Regions from separate parts of the Homo sapiens genome. Here regions 2 and 3 are each linked to region 1. Evidence: fine-mapped expression QTL. A gene starts in region 1. Each other region holds a variant in brackets. All regions are shown on one strand. Distances are from middle to middle.

Region 1 (4,241 bases):
CAGTGTTGGGCACTACAGAGGTCCAGTAGGATTGGGACTGAAAGGAACCATCTGATTCAGAAGGTGGGAGGTCCTGGCAAAAACATCCTGGGGATGGCTGGGCGTGGTGGCTCATGCCCGTAATCCCAGCACTTTGGGAGGCCAAGGCGGGTGGATCACCTGAGGTCAGGAGTTCAAGACCAGCTTTGCCAACATGGTGAAACCCTGTCTCTACAAAATATACAAAAGTTAGCCAGGCGTGGTGGCAGGCACCTGTAATCCCAGCTACTCGGGAGGCTGAGGCAGGAGAATCGCTTGAACCCAGGAGTCAGTGGTTGCAGTGAGCCGAGATTGTGCCATTGCACTCCAGCCTGGGCGGCAGAGTGAGACTCTGTCTCAAAAAAAAAAAGCATAGACCTAAATGTAAGAACCAAAACTATGAAGCTTCTAGAAGAAATTATAGGAGAAAATCTTAGTGACTTTGTGTTAGGCAAAGATTTCATAATCAGTATCAATATCTGGTTTGTGGAAAAAAGATTTCTTAAATAGGCAAATTCCATGAACTATGAAAGAAAAAAATACACTGAACTTCATAAAAATTAAAACCTTTTGTCTATTCATTTATTGCCATATATAAGCCACATGACGTTTCTCCTTGCTCCAGCCTGGATACAGGAAACCCTTATACGGTTGTCTATCCCAGCAGCTATCATATGCCAGGCTTCTATTTGTGTCCTACAGACTGTACATCCCTCAAGGGCAGAAAACATACCTTGCAAATGTCCTCACTGCCTAACATGTTGATAATTGCAAAGCCCAGGCATAACTGCACAGTTCCACATCTGATTAGGATGCTTAGGTCACATTACTTTCAATTAAAAAAGACTAAAAAGTTGGTAAACAATCAAATGCTCAAAAATCAGGCAATGATGGTAAATTGTGATATATATTGATAGCATATTACAGCAAATCAAATGTTTTCAAAGAACTTTTGGTTATTGGGTATATGGTCATGATGGAAATTGAAAGATATGAAATACAGAAGACACTGTTTAGAAATAGACCAAAATACACACAGGATTTTGGAACACGGTAAAAGTAGCAATTCATTTCGGGGGAGAGATGGCTTATACTCATTGGAAAGAGCCTTTCCTTTCTTTTAATGCCTAGCCACAGACCACTGACTCCACGACTGGGGGAAATGTGGAGCCCTGGGGGCAGAGAGCAAGCCTGCCCTCTGTCCCTCTGCCCCTGTGCCCCTCTGCCCACGTGGGCACGCAGCCTTAGTTAAGACCCCAATAAGTGGTAGGCTCTCTAAAATGTGTTCACAACCTTTAAAGCAGTCATTCTATTTTAGGAAGACACTGTAAGAAAATAATCCTAAAGAGAAAAATATGTATCAATTGTAGAAGGACATCTATAAGCTGCTCCATTTATTTATTTATTTATTATTTATTATTATTATTTTTGAAGCAGAGTCTCGTTCTGTCGCTCAGACTGGAGTGCAATGGTGCGATCTCGGCTCACTGCAACCTCTACCTCCAGGGTTCAAGCGATTCTCTTGCCTCAGCTTCCCGAGTAGCTGGGATTACAGGCACCCGCCACCACGCCGGGCTAATTTTTTGTATTTTTAGTAGAGACAGGGTTTCTCTATGTTAGCCAGGCTGGTCTCGAACTCCTGACTTGTGATCCGCCCGCCTTGTCCTCCCAAAGTGCTGGGATTACAAACGTGAGCCACCGCGCCCGGCCAGGTGTTCCATTTATAAAGCAAAATACAAAAATGAAATGGCTAGGGGCACGAGGCCGCCTGGTGGGTGAGAGCAGCGGCCATGGATGGCTTTGCGCAGACCAACAAACAGCTAAATTATAGAGGAACTACATATTGAAATGTAAATTCACGCATGAGGTCTGTATTAATATTGAAAATGCCTAAATAAAAATAATCTTTTTTTTCTGAGCCTGGGGGTGGGGGAGTGGAGTGGCGTGGGGGAGTTGGGGTGGAGGGGGAAAGGGTCTTTCTATGTCGCCCACTGGTGTCAAACTCCTGGGTTCAAGCAATCCTCCCGCCTCAGCTTCGGAAGCAGCTGGGAATACAGGCGCGCGCATCAAGCCCGGTTAAATAAAATCTGTTTCCCCCAGTTAAAAAAAAATTAATTTGTGTGGGTACATAGGTGTATATATTTCTGGGGTATATGGGATATTTTGATACAGGCATACACTGTATAATAATCACATCAGGGTAAATGAGGTATCCGTTACCTCAAGCATTTATCCTTTGTGTTACAATATAATCTTAAAGGGAAAAAAAGAGCAGCACAGGTAGTACTGACTGCAGCTGTACAGAAACAATGCGTGCCATAAATATTCATTTGAAAGAGAGGGGTTATGATTATTTACAATCATTAGCGAATGTAGCAACATTCTGGGCACTGACAAGAAAACTGCCACAAACATGCAGGCATAATGCACAATAAGCAAGTCCAAGCTGTGGTCGGGGCTCCCTCGCGTCCCTGTAAGCTCTGAATTTAGAATGGGGTGGACCGCCTGCTGATCAAGGGTTCTGAAAGGCCGGCGGCTAATGGACCGCCAGGGGGCGCTCCACGCACGTCTCCACGTCCCCGGGCGCACCTCGCAGCCGCGCCCGCTCGCTGCCAGGCCGCTCCCTCCGTCCCTCACCCGCCCCGACTCGCTTCCGTCCCGTCCGACGCTAGGGGGCGCCGCAGGCTGCCTGGCGCGCTGCTCGCGGCCTCGGAGGGCCGGGGCTGGGTGGCAGCGGCCATGGACCGCTTCGTTTGGACCAGCGGCCTCCTGGAGATCAACGAGACCCTGGTGATCCAGCAGCGCGGGGTGCGAATCTACGATGGCGAGGAGAAGGTAGGGCGTCTGCCAACCTTCCCAACGGGCTGGCGGAAGGGACCCCCGGTGGGCGCGCGGCCCGGCTCAGCGCGGCCCGGGTCGGCGCGGCCCGGTCCCCGGCTTAGCTCACGGCCCTCGGCGGCCCGGCAGGCCTCTGTGCGGGGTGCAGCGCTCTTGCGCTCCCCGCCGGTCGGTAGCACGTGGCGTGGGGCGCTCGGCTGCCTCCCCAGCGCGGGTCCCAACTTTGGCACGGTTCCCAGCAGGCGCGGATCGCGGCCGCTTCCCTCCGCCCGGAATGCTTCCGGGAGCGCACAGCTGCAGTGCCCGGGAGAAGGAGCGCTCGCCGTCTGCGGGCGCCGGGCGGCGATCCGGCAGTCGACTTCCTTGGCGTGGTTCCAGACCCCCTGACGACACCAACCTCGGCGTCGGCACCGGACAGCCCCGTTTCGCCTTTCTGTGAGGAGGGCGCGGTGGCCGTACAGTCCGTGCCCCAGCGGAAGCTTTAGCTTGGACCTTATGCAGTCGGAGGGATTAGCATATCTGGGCAGAGGGGTGAGGGATTGCTTCGAAAGGATTTCCTAAAGAGGTATCAGTGCTTCATTGGAATGCCCTTGCCAAAGGCTATTGGGTTTTTGTTTTGTTTTCTAATTGCTTTAGAAAGGCGTTCTGAGCGTGTTTTGTAAAGTGTTATATTAATAGTAGACCGTGCCTTGTAGTGCAAGCATAAATCTTAGAAGGTGCGTTTGCAAATCGAGAGGAGAAATAGGAAGTGTAAGTAAATATTTTGTAGATACTTTACTGAAACTATGAAATATCTTGTCCTGGATTGAAATGGATAAACTGGAATTAGAAAAATTTTAAAACTCATTTACCCACAAGCATTTTTGGTTTCCAGAAGTTTTAATTTGCTACCTCTCTTCCCTTGCCGTTTTATTAACGACACTTTCCGCTGTACTTTGATATAAGTTCCTCAACTCAGCTTTTCCTGGTAAGTGCTTACAGCTATTTAGAGGCACAGGTGACATTGGACCCAGGTCCTCTGACTCTCTTAGGGCATTTTCTATGGGCTGTGTTGCCTGTATTAGTGAGTAAAGGTCTTTTCCTTAAATAATTTGCTTGGACCTAACTTCACTTACTGCCTTAGCACTTCTTAATTTAATTAATTAATTTATTTATTTTGAGACAGAGTCTCGCTCTATCGCCAGGCTGGAGTGCAGTGGCGCGATCTGGGCTCACTGCAACCTCCGCCTCCCAGATTCAAGATCCTGCCTCAGCCTCCTGAGTAACTGGGATTACAGGCGCCTGCAACCATGCCCGGCTAATTTTTGCATATTTAGTAGAGACGGGGTTTCACCACATTGGCCAGGCTGGTCTCTAACTCCTGACCTCAAATGATCCGCCCGCCT
Region 2 (4,241 bases), 120 kb before region 1:
CACAGACACATCCTGCTTTCCCACCTCTACTGAGTGTTAAGCTGTGCAGGGGAAGCAAGGTTGGTGATGGAGAAATGGACATGGAAATGGAGGCCAGTTTCTCTCTGCACTTTCTTTCTCAAGTCCCGAAGGTGTACGACTGACCAATTTGCCTGCGTCCCTGGGCAACAGTGCATCCCAGCTTTATCTCTCTGCTTACATTCTGGAAGCAGGCAAATAGCTCTCATGATGTTTATATGGATTTTTACAACTGCTAATACTCGGTAACAGCTAGGTGGGTGAAAGATACCTCCATAGAGCCCCACTCTCTCGCAACCCTTTCCATTTTCATGTAGATTCAGGCAGGGAAGACCTAAGCGCTCCTCCTAGGAGGCTCTTCTTGACCCCCAGCACTGTGGCTGGGAGTGAGAGCCACAAGGTATGGGAGTGGCTGGGAGTGAGAGGGTTACAGATGGAGGACAGAGGGGAAAGAGAGAGCCCAGGGGGATGAGAAAAAAATATGCCTCTGAAAGAAGGTAAGAAAATGATATGATATGGAGACACCTCCACCAAGACAAACTCTCAACTAGAGGTGGTTTGAGAAATAACCAGTCTTGAAGGCACATGGGACCTCCTCCTCCCTCATCAGAGGCTCACTCTGCCCTGAAAAGTCCACCTTGGGTTGTGACCAGAAGAGCAAAGAGAACAGGAGAGATGGGAAGGGGATGAAGTCCTCCAAATTGGTGATGGAAAAGAAAAAGTGAAGAACATCTAAGGGCTGGCAATCAATGGGCAATTCCAGGAGGAGGGGCATACCTAAGGAGGAGTTTATGCATGAGGATACGTAAAAAGACAGGTATAAGTTAGGATCATCTGTGTATATAACAATGAGCAAAACCCTCCCAGAGTGGGAACCTTGGCCCTCCTGCCCAATTCTTCAATTTTACATAAACACTTACCATGAATCGAATAAATAACTAATCTTTTTATAAACAGTGTTTTTCTTGGAGGGAGATTCCAGTTGTAGCTATGTTTCACTTGTGCAAAATATCCAACATATCTATTCTGAAAAGCAACAGAAGCCTTACTTTAAGTGGAGATGAAAAGCCTGAAGTCAGCATTCCTATTTTCAGTTTTCCCTTTTTTTTTTTTTTTTTTTTGCATAAAGGTTAAGGGCAGTAAATAATTAAGGAAACATTTACTGGATGCCATTATGTTACTAGATATTTTGAGGGATGCTGCCTCACAACTATCTACCTTGGGGAAAAAATACTGAATTAAGTGCTATGGGGAAGTGACAAGGATGGAGCCAGGTCTTGTTGACAGGCTGCTTATGGTTGAGAGGGCAACTAATCAGAACCAACAACAAAACAGTTACAGCATTAGCAGTGTGCAGATAGAAGCTTAGTTGTGACTGAGTTAGAGGAAGGTGTGTGGTTTAGTGAAGAGCAGGTTCCTGGGCATGAGAGAATGCCATATGTGAAAACTCAAGAGGAATACCTCCATATCTCAGTAGCAGGTTTCCTGTCATTCTTCTCTTGTTCCTGACAGCTAGGATTTCTTCACTTTCCATTTCCCCAATTCTGTTTTCACAAGGAAGCCCCGGAATTCCCTTAGCCTTGTCCTTTTCCTAGGGCAAGCTGTTCACAGTGGCTCTCCTTGAATCTATCTTCAAGGAGTTGAAGAGCTCTGGTACTGAATCAACTGGTTCAGAACTCAAAAGTTGGCTGCGCTGGTGGCTCACACCTGTAATCTCAGCACTTTGGGAGGCCGAGGTGGGCAGATCACTTGAGGTCAGGGGTTCGAGACCAGCCTGGCCAACAGGGTGAAACCCCGTCTCTACTAAAGCTACAAAAATTAGCCATGCGTGGTGGTGGGCACCTGTAATCCCAGCTACTTGGGAGTCTGAGGCAGGAGAATTGCTTGAACCCAGGAGGTCGAGGTTGCAGTGAGCTGAGACTGCACCACTGCACTCCAGTCTGGGTGACAGACAGATTCTGTCTCCAAAAAAAAAAAAAAGAAGAAGTACTCATAAGTTCATGGACTCTATCTTACCCATTGAGAAATGTTCATAGAAGTAACAAACTGCCATACTTTCCTTTAGAAAGGGCCAGTCATGAGGAAGGCTCATGAAAGTTCTTAACTTAGGAGTAGATGTAGTCAGTAGAATGGCCCACAATGCAGGATCAGAATGTGATGGTATCCGAGAATCACCACCAGACACAGAGGGCACTCTGTCCTGAGGTCTTGC[C/T]AACACATCTCTCAAATGTGCAGCTGAGACCCTGTGTTGCCTTCTCAGTCAATCAGAAGAGATTCAGTTGCAGCCTTTGGTGTGCTAGTTCTGGACTAAAGTTCGGGAAACTATGCATGACTACAGAAGAGATGGGGATGGGGAGACGTGTGGGGTGAGTTGCTGAAGGAGCTCTATCTAACATCTCCTTGGCTCCTGCCACCAGATTCTCCACCTTCCCCTAAAGGCTGTAACCTGCCAGGGCCCTCAAGCTGCTTTTGCTCCCATGCTTCTTTCTACTACAACTTAAAACAACATGGACTGGTAGTAGAAATTCATACAACCAACCCATAGGAGGTACTCACTACAAACAAAGAAGATATTATGAGGAAAGGGTGGAAAGATGGGTAAGCCATGGGCCTTGCCTTTAAAGGGGAAACAGAAGTCACCACTTCAAATAGCTAGAGAACAATGCAAAGTGATATCATCCCTAAGAGAAACACAAAGGGCTTTAGGAACTGAAAAAGCAAGAGACTACTTCAGGCTGGGAAGGGAAAGGGACTCTAGGAAAAGGGGCATGAGAAATGGCACGAGGGAATCAAGTGTCCATGGGCTGGGAAACAGCACACAGTCTAAATGTGTTAGAGTGTGGGATGTGTGCATGCACATAGTGGAAGAAAAGGTTGGAAAAGTCAAACTGTGGATCTTGAGTGCCAGGTTGAAACATTTAGTTTATTGCTACTGGCAGTGGGGACATACTCTGGATTTTGAGCATGGAAATGGCATGAGTAGGGCTGCACTTCAGTAAATCCACACATTCCTTTTCGCTTAGGGTCTATGACTGTTCTTTGTCTGGTTTTGTTTTTGGCTTGGGTGTGGGAGAAAAGTATCAGTGGATAAGGCTGAGTTCTTTTGCCCAAACTAAACGGGGACAGTAGTTAGTGTTCTTATAACAGGGCCAAGAGTACTTATTCAGTTCCCACCACCTAAAGAAAAACTCATTTACAGCCACATCCAAATCTATTTGAGAATTCCCAACCCACTCTCACTTCGGTTTGAGGGGCAATATAGAAAAGGCAATATAAATGAGAAGCTGTGCACAGCATGGGCTTCAGAGTCTGACATCTAGATTTCAGTCCTTGGTTCAAAAGTTAATTTCTCTGAACCTCAATTTTCTAATTTATAAGATGAGAATCATAGTAGTGCCTACTCATAGAGTTACTGAGAATATTAAATGAGATAGTGAATGTAAAACTCTTAGAATGGTTCAGCAAAGTCTAGAATGTTGTAAATGCTATACGATAAACATTCTGGTTTCTGCAGTAAACAAATTACAAGCAATAAAAAATGGCAAGAAATCTATGAACTAAAAGAGACTTAGGAGACATAGCGACCAAATGAAATGTGTGGATGTTGTTTGAATTCTGACTGAAACAAACTAAATTTTCAAAGATTTTAAGACAATTTTGGAAACAAACATGGACTAGAAATTTGATATTAAGGATTTTTAAGGTGTAATATTTCAGATATGATAAAAGTTATTAAGGGTTTTTTGTTGTTGTTTTAAGAGTACTTAGATGTCATACTAAAATACTTGTGGGATAAAATGATCTGATGACTGAAATTTCCTTCCAAATAATCCAGGTTTGGGGAAAGCAAGAGTGGAGAGTGGGGTTGGGGGTGTGAGTGGAGTGGGAAAAGTATGGATGAAACGTGGCCAGTTGCAGGCTGAAATGATTGTTGCAGCGAAGTGATGACTACATGGAGATATATTGTATGATTCTCTGGACTTTTGTATATGATTAAAGTTTTCCATAACGAAATTATTTTTAAAAGAAAAAACAGAGTAACAGCATATGTTTCATATAGGTGTTATGGGTTTTCAATGAGATATGTAAAAGTGCAGTACTGTCTGGTATATAAAAGGGTTTTTGAAAAGTTTATTTCCCCTTTTCTTTCTCTTTTAAAATACACCTCCCCCACCACACACACACACACACACACACACACACACACACACACACACACGGGA
Region 3 (4,241 bases), 280 kb before region 1:
AATAAAGGTCAGGAGTGCCCCCAATCTTTGTGACAAGAAACTTCTCCAAGGATTTCTAAAGTGCCCTCTTGGGGACACGAACTCCTACCATCCTTGGGAACCTCTGGTTTAAGCCATAGAAATAGATGAGATACCTTAGAAAGAAAAAAATGTGCAGCCAAGGTAAGATTACATCACTGTTTTGAAAAAAGAATGTTAGATTCTTGGACTCTCCACTCATCACCCTTGCTAGCAAATTTCTTCATTACCACCAGCTTCTAAAGCCTGTTTGTTTGCAAAAACAGGAGGTTTGCTTGGCTTTCTTGTGCTTCTTTTAGTTCCCTCTGTTTAATCTCTTAATATATCTGGCTGCTTGATGTGGAGTTTTTGCTAGACACGGTAGTTAATATGTGTGAATTCTTTCCCACACTTCCTACCCCATGGGGGTTTCAGTTCTCACTGCGGTGTGTCGACTGTCAGAACCAACTTAACACTAGATTCCCATTCAGTGCTGCGAATCATTCAGTAGAATCAGCTTTCCCCTTTGGGGATATGGTGACGGAGATGTGTGCATTCCCTCCACACATCTCACATTCAGGGGATGTGTTTGAAGTTAAGAGAAAATGTCACATAAGAAGGCATCATCTCCCTCCCTGCCTTCTGTTTTTCAAACTATGAGTCCTAAATTTACATGCCAAATAAGAGCAGCAGCCCTACAGGAGGTAGCATAAGAGAAAGCAGTTATTCTCCACGTGTATTCCTCAGGCTGCCAGTGGAGCATCACTTGGCTTGTTAGAAATGCAGATTTTAGGCCCCACCCCAGACCTACTGAATGGGAAACTGGGGGTGGGGCACAACACTGTTTAATTTAACAAGTCCTCCAAGTGAATTTTTTTTTTTTTTTGAGATGGAGTCTCGCTCTGTCGCCAGGCTGCAGTGCAGTGGTGCAATCTTGGCTCACTGCAACCTCTGCCTCCTGGGTTTCTCCTGCCTCAGCCTCCCGAGTAGCTGGGACTACAGGTGCACGCCACCACGCCCAACTAATTTTTGTATTTTTAGTAGAGATGGGGTTTCACCATGTTGGCCAGGATGGTCTCCATCTCTTGACCTCGTGATCCTCCTGCCTCGGCCTCCCAAAGTGCTGGGATTACAGGCGTGAGCCACCGCCCTGGCCCAGGTGATTTTTTAATTTGCCTTTTTAAAATTGTTACATAATATTTTATATATTTATGAGATATATGTGATATTTTGTTACATGAATAGGATGTGTAATGATAATGTTAGGGTATTTGGTTTTCATTTCTATGTGTTGGGAACATTTCAAGTCCTCTCTTCTAGCTGCTTTGAAACATACAATACATTGTTGCTAACTATAGTCACCCCACTCTGCTACTGAACATTAGAACTTATTTCTTCTGTCTAACTGCATGTTTTTACCACCCACTAACCAACCTGTCTTCATTCCCCCAGCTCCACCCATATATCCTTCTCAGCCTCTGGTATCTATCATTACTTTCTGCTTCCATGAGATCAACTTTTTTAGCTCCCACATAGGAGAGAGAACATATGACATTTGTCTTTCTGTGCCTGGCTTATTTCATTTAACATAATGACCTCTGGTTCCATCCATGTTACTGGAAATGACATGATTTCATTCTTTTCTATGGCCAAATAGTATTCCATTGTGGATATATATATATATACCAGTGATCCTTCTCCCTTCCAAGTAGCTGGGACTACAGGCACACACCACCACACCTAGCTAATTTTTAAAATTTTTTTGTAGAAATGGGGTCTCACCATGTTGTGCAGGCTGGTTGCGAACTCCTGGGCTCAAGCAGTCCTTCTGCCTCAGCCTCCCAAAGTGTTGGGATTACAGGCATGAGACACTATGCTTGGCCCTTTTTTATTCTTTTTTATTTATTTTTGTCTGACTGGGTTATTTCAAAAGACTTCTCTTCAAGTTCTGAGATGCCTGAAATAGTCTATTGTTGAATCATTTTTTTTTATTTGAGACGGAGTCTGGCTCTGTCACCCAGGCTGAAGTGCGGTGGTGCCATTTCAACTCACTGCAACATCCACCTCCTGAGTTCAAGCGATTCTCCTGCCTCAGCCTCGAGTAACTGGGATAACAGGCGTGCACCACCATGGCCAGCTATTTTTTATTTTTTTGTATTTTTAGTAGAGATGGGGTTTATAGTTGGCCAGGCTGGTCTCGAACTCCTGACCTCAGGCGATCCACTCACCTTGGCCTCCCAAAGTGCTGGGATTACAGGTGT[G/A]AGCCACTGTGCCTGGCTTCTATTGTTGAATCTTTTAAGTGTATATTGTATTTCATTCAATGAATTCTTCAGTTCTATAATTTCTATTTCGTTCTTTTTCATAATATACATCTCCTTATTAAATTTCTCATTCATATCCTAAATTGTCTTTCTGATTTCTTTGTCATGTTTTTCAGTATTCTCTTGTATCTCACGGAGCTTCTTTAATATCAATATTTAATTTTTTTTCTGGGATTTCATAAATTTGTTTTTGATTGTGATCTGTTGCTGGAGAATTATTGTATTCCTCTGGGAGTGTCATGTTTTATTGCTTTTTCATGCTTCCTGTGTCCTTGTGTTGATATCTGTGCATCTGATTTAATAGTTGCTTATTACAGTTTTTTAAATTTGCTTTCATAGGTGTGGACTTTTGGTGTTGGTTAGGTAGGGCACTTCAGCTTTCATTCTGGGTGCATGCAGTAGTATAGTCTCTGTATGTTTTTTTTTTTTTTAGCTGTAAACAGCGTCGGTGGTGTCTGTGATTTTTCTTGGTAGCTTAAGGTGTGGTTGTTAATGAAGACTGTTCTGAAGTTTTGCTGGGGACCCAGGGGATTTTTGATACAAGGGAAGGTTTGTGAACCACTGATAAAAAGAAACTTGGGTCCAAAGGTTATTGCCATCACTTTAAAAGCTTTGTTACCTTGAACACCTTTCTCTTTCATATGGTAGTCTTCAACCCTGGCATCAACCCTTTAAATTATAAACACCTGGGGAGCTTTTAAGGCTCCCAATACCTGGGCCCCAAAGCAAACCAATCAAATGGGAATCTCTGGGAAGGGACCCAGGCGTCTGTGTTCTTAAACCCTCTACAGTGAATTCAGGTGCAGTTAAGAGCCAAGCCTCAGCAGTGAGCCTCGGAGCTCCTCTTCTGTAAAGTGGGGATAATGCCCCTGTCTCTCTGAGTGAGCAGTAGTGCTGGGAGAAATAGGTGAAATGAGTTACATATGTATACATGATTAATTAAGCCACAAGACAAATAATAAAGAGCTTGAGGAAGAATGAGCCTTTTCTTCTGTGTTTTGCAGTCCTTTACTCACCAGCTTCTGTAGGGCTCCTGGCTCTGTGACTACATAAGGTAGAGCTATCCATTAATCCCCTCCAGCATGACTTACATTTAATTTTCTTCTTCATTGTAAAGGGCTGAATCTTGAGCCAGGATCCCTAGATTTTAAGTGTTTTCTACCCCCATTCTTTATCACTGGCCCTGGTACCATTTCTATATCATTCCAACACTTGCCTCAACTCAACAGAGGACTGATAAGGTTCAGATTTGTGCTAGTATCTCCATTATTATACCATAAAAATTGTAGGCCTTTATTTTAGATTCACTAGTCCTGAAACTAACAGCAGCAGGAGGAGAGTAAACATTCTTGGGACAGAGCATCCTGTTACCCCTCATGTCCTCTGTGGGTAGAATCGGGGCTGTGCTTTCAGCCAAGACTGGAGCTTTGTGGCTGATGTTTCCCTTGAGGCAGTCCCTAGGCAGACCAAGAGAAGATATTGTTTATATCTCTCAGGAGACAAAAAAAAAACATCTAAGTCCTTGGGTAAGGTATAGAAGGAAAGTTCAGAACCAGGTGCTGTAGAAAGTTTTACTGTTTACTCTGGGCTCAGTAACCTAGGAAAATTCTGAATTCACAGAATTAATTAATTTGACCAACATCTTTTGAATAGCTTTGTGGGGTCACCAAAAAAGAAAACAGAAAAGATTCAAATACTGATCTCAAGAAGCTTATAACTAAGTAGGCTGTGTATAGCTGAGTAAGCATCCCAGTTGAGGAATGAAGACAGGAGGACTTATGGGAAAGCAGAGGAAAGACAGCTGCTTAGGCTGAGATGTTCAGAGAAGGCTGCATGGAGAAGGTGGCATTTCATCTGAGCTTGTGAATATAGATGGAATAACTAACATATTCTGTCCCAGCTCAAATATCATCCCCTCATTGA

Alleles and levels. Alleles are on the strand shown, and positions count from the first base shown. SD is a standard deviation of normalised expression in the study named.
With allele T in place of C in region 2, the expression in monocytes of the gene that starts at base 2,718 in region 1 is lower (moderate effect, 0.41 SD a copy in Quach 2016).
In carriers of allele G in region 3, the expression in whole blood of the gene that starts at base 2,718 in region 1 tends to be higher than with A alone (small effect, 0.29 SD a copy in Lepik 2017).

What was found. PIP is the estimated chance that this variant, and not a neighbour inherited with it, causes the effect.
Region 2: its variant is the best candidate, but not a certain one, in a credible set for the expression of VPS36 in monocytes (Quach 2016, PIP 0.62).
Region 3: its variant is the best candidate, but not a certain one, in a credible set for the expression of VPS36 in whole blood (Lepik 2017, PIP 0.86).

Annotation. Positions count from the first base shown.
Region 1 is chr13:52,449,111-52,453,351 of GRCh38, reverse strand. VPS36 (vacuolar protein sorting 36 homolog) reads left to right here and starts at 2,718. Exons shown (of 14, transcript NM_016075.4): 1 at 2,718-2,853. The coding sequence starts at 2,758. RefSeq lists silencers at 2,472-2,531, 2,572-3,031 and an enhancer at 2,552-3,132.
Region 2 is chr13:52,573,874-52,578,114 of GRCh38, reverse strand. The region is part of intron 2 of LINC00345 (long intergenic non-protein coding RNA 345); the gene reads left to right. It also overlaps the pseudogene TPTE2P3. Among named protein-coding and RNA genes, the nearest start is that of LINC00345, 24 kb to the left of the region's middle. The variant C/T (reference allele first, on the strand shown) is at 2,231.
Region 3 is chr13:52,725,019-52,729,259 of GRCh38, reverse strand. All of the region lies in intron 3 of CNMD (chondromodulin), which reads left to right. Among named protein-coding and RNA genes, the nearest start is that of CNMD, 13 kb to the left of the region's middle. The variant G/A (reference allele first, on the strand shown) is at 2,259.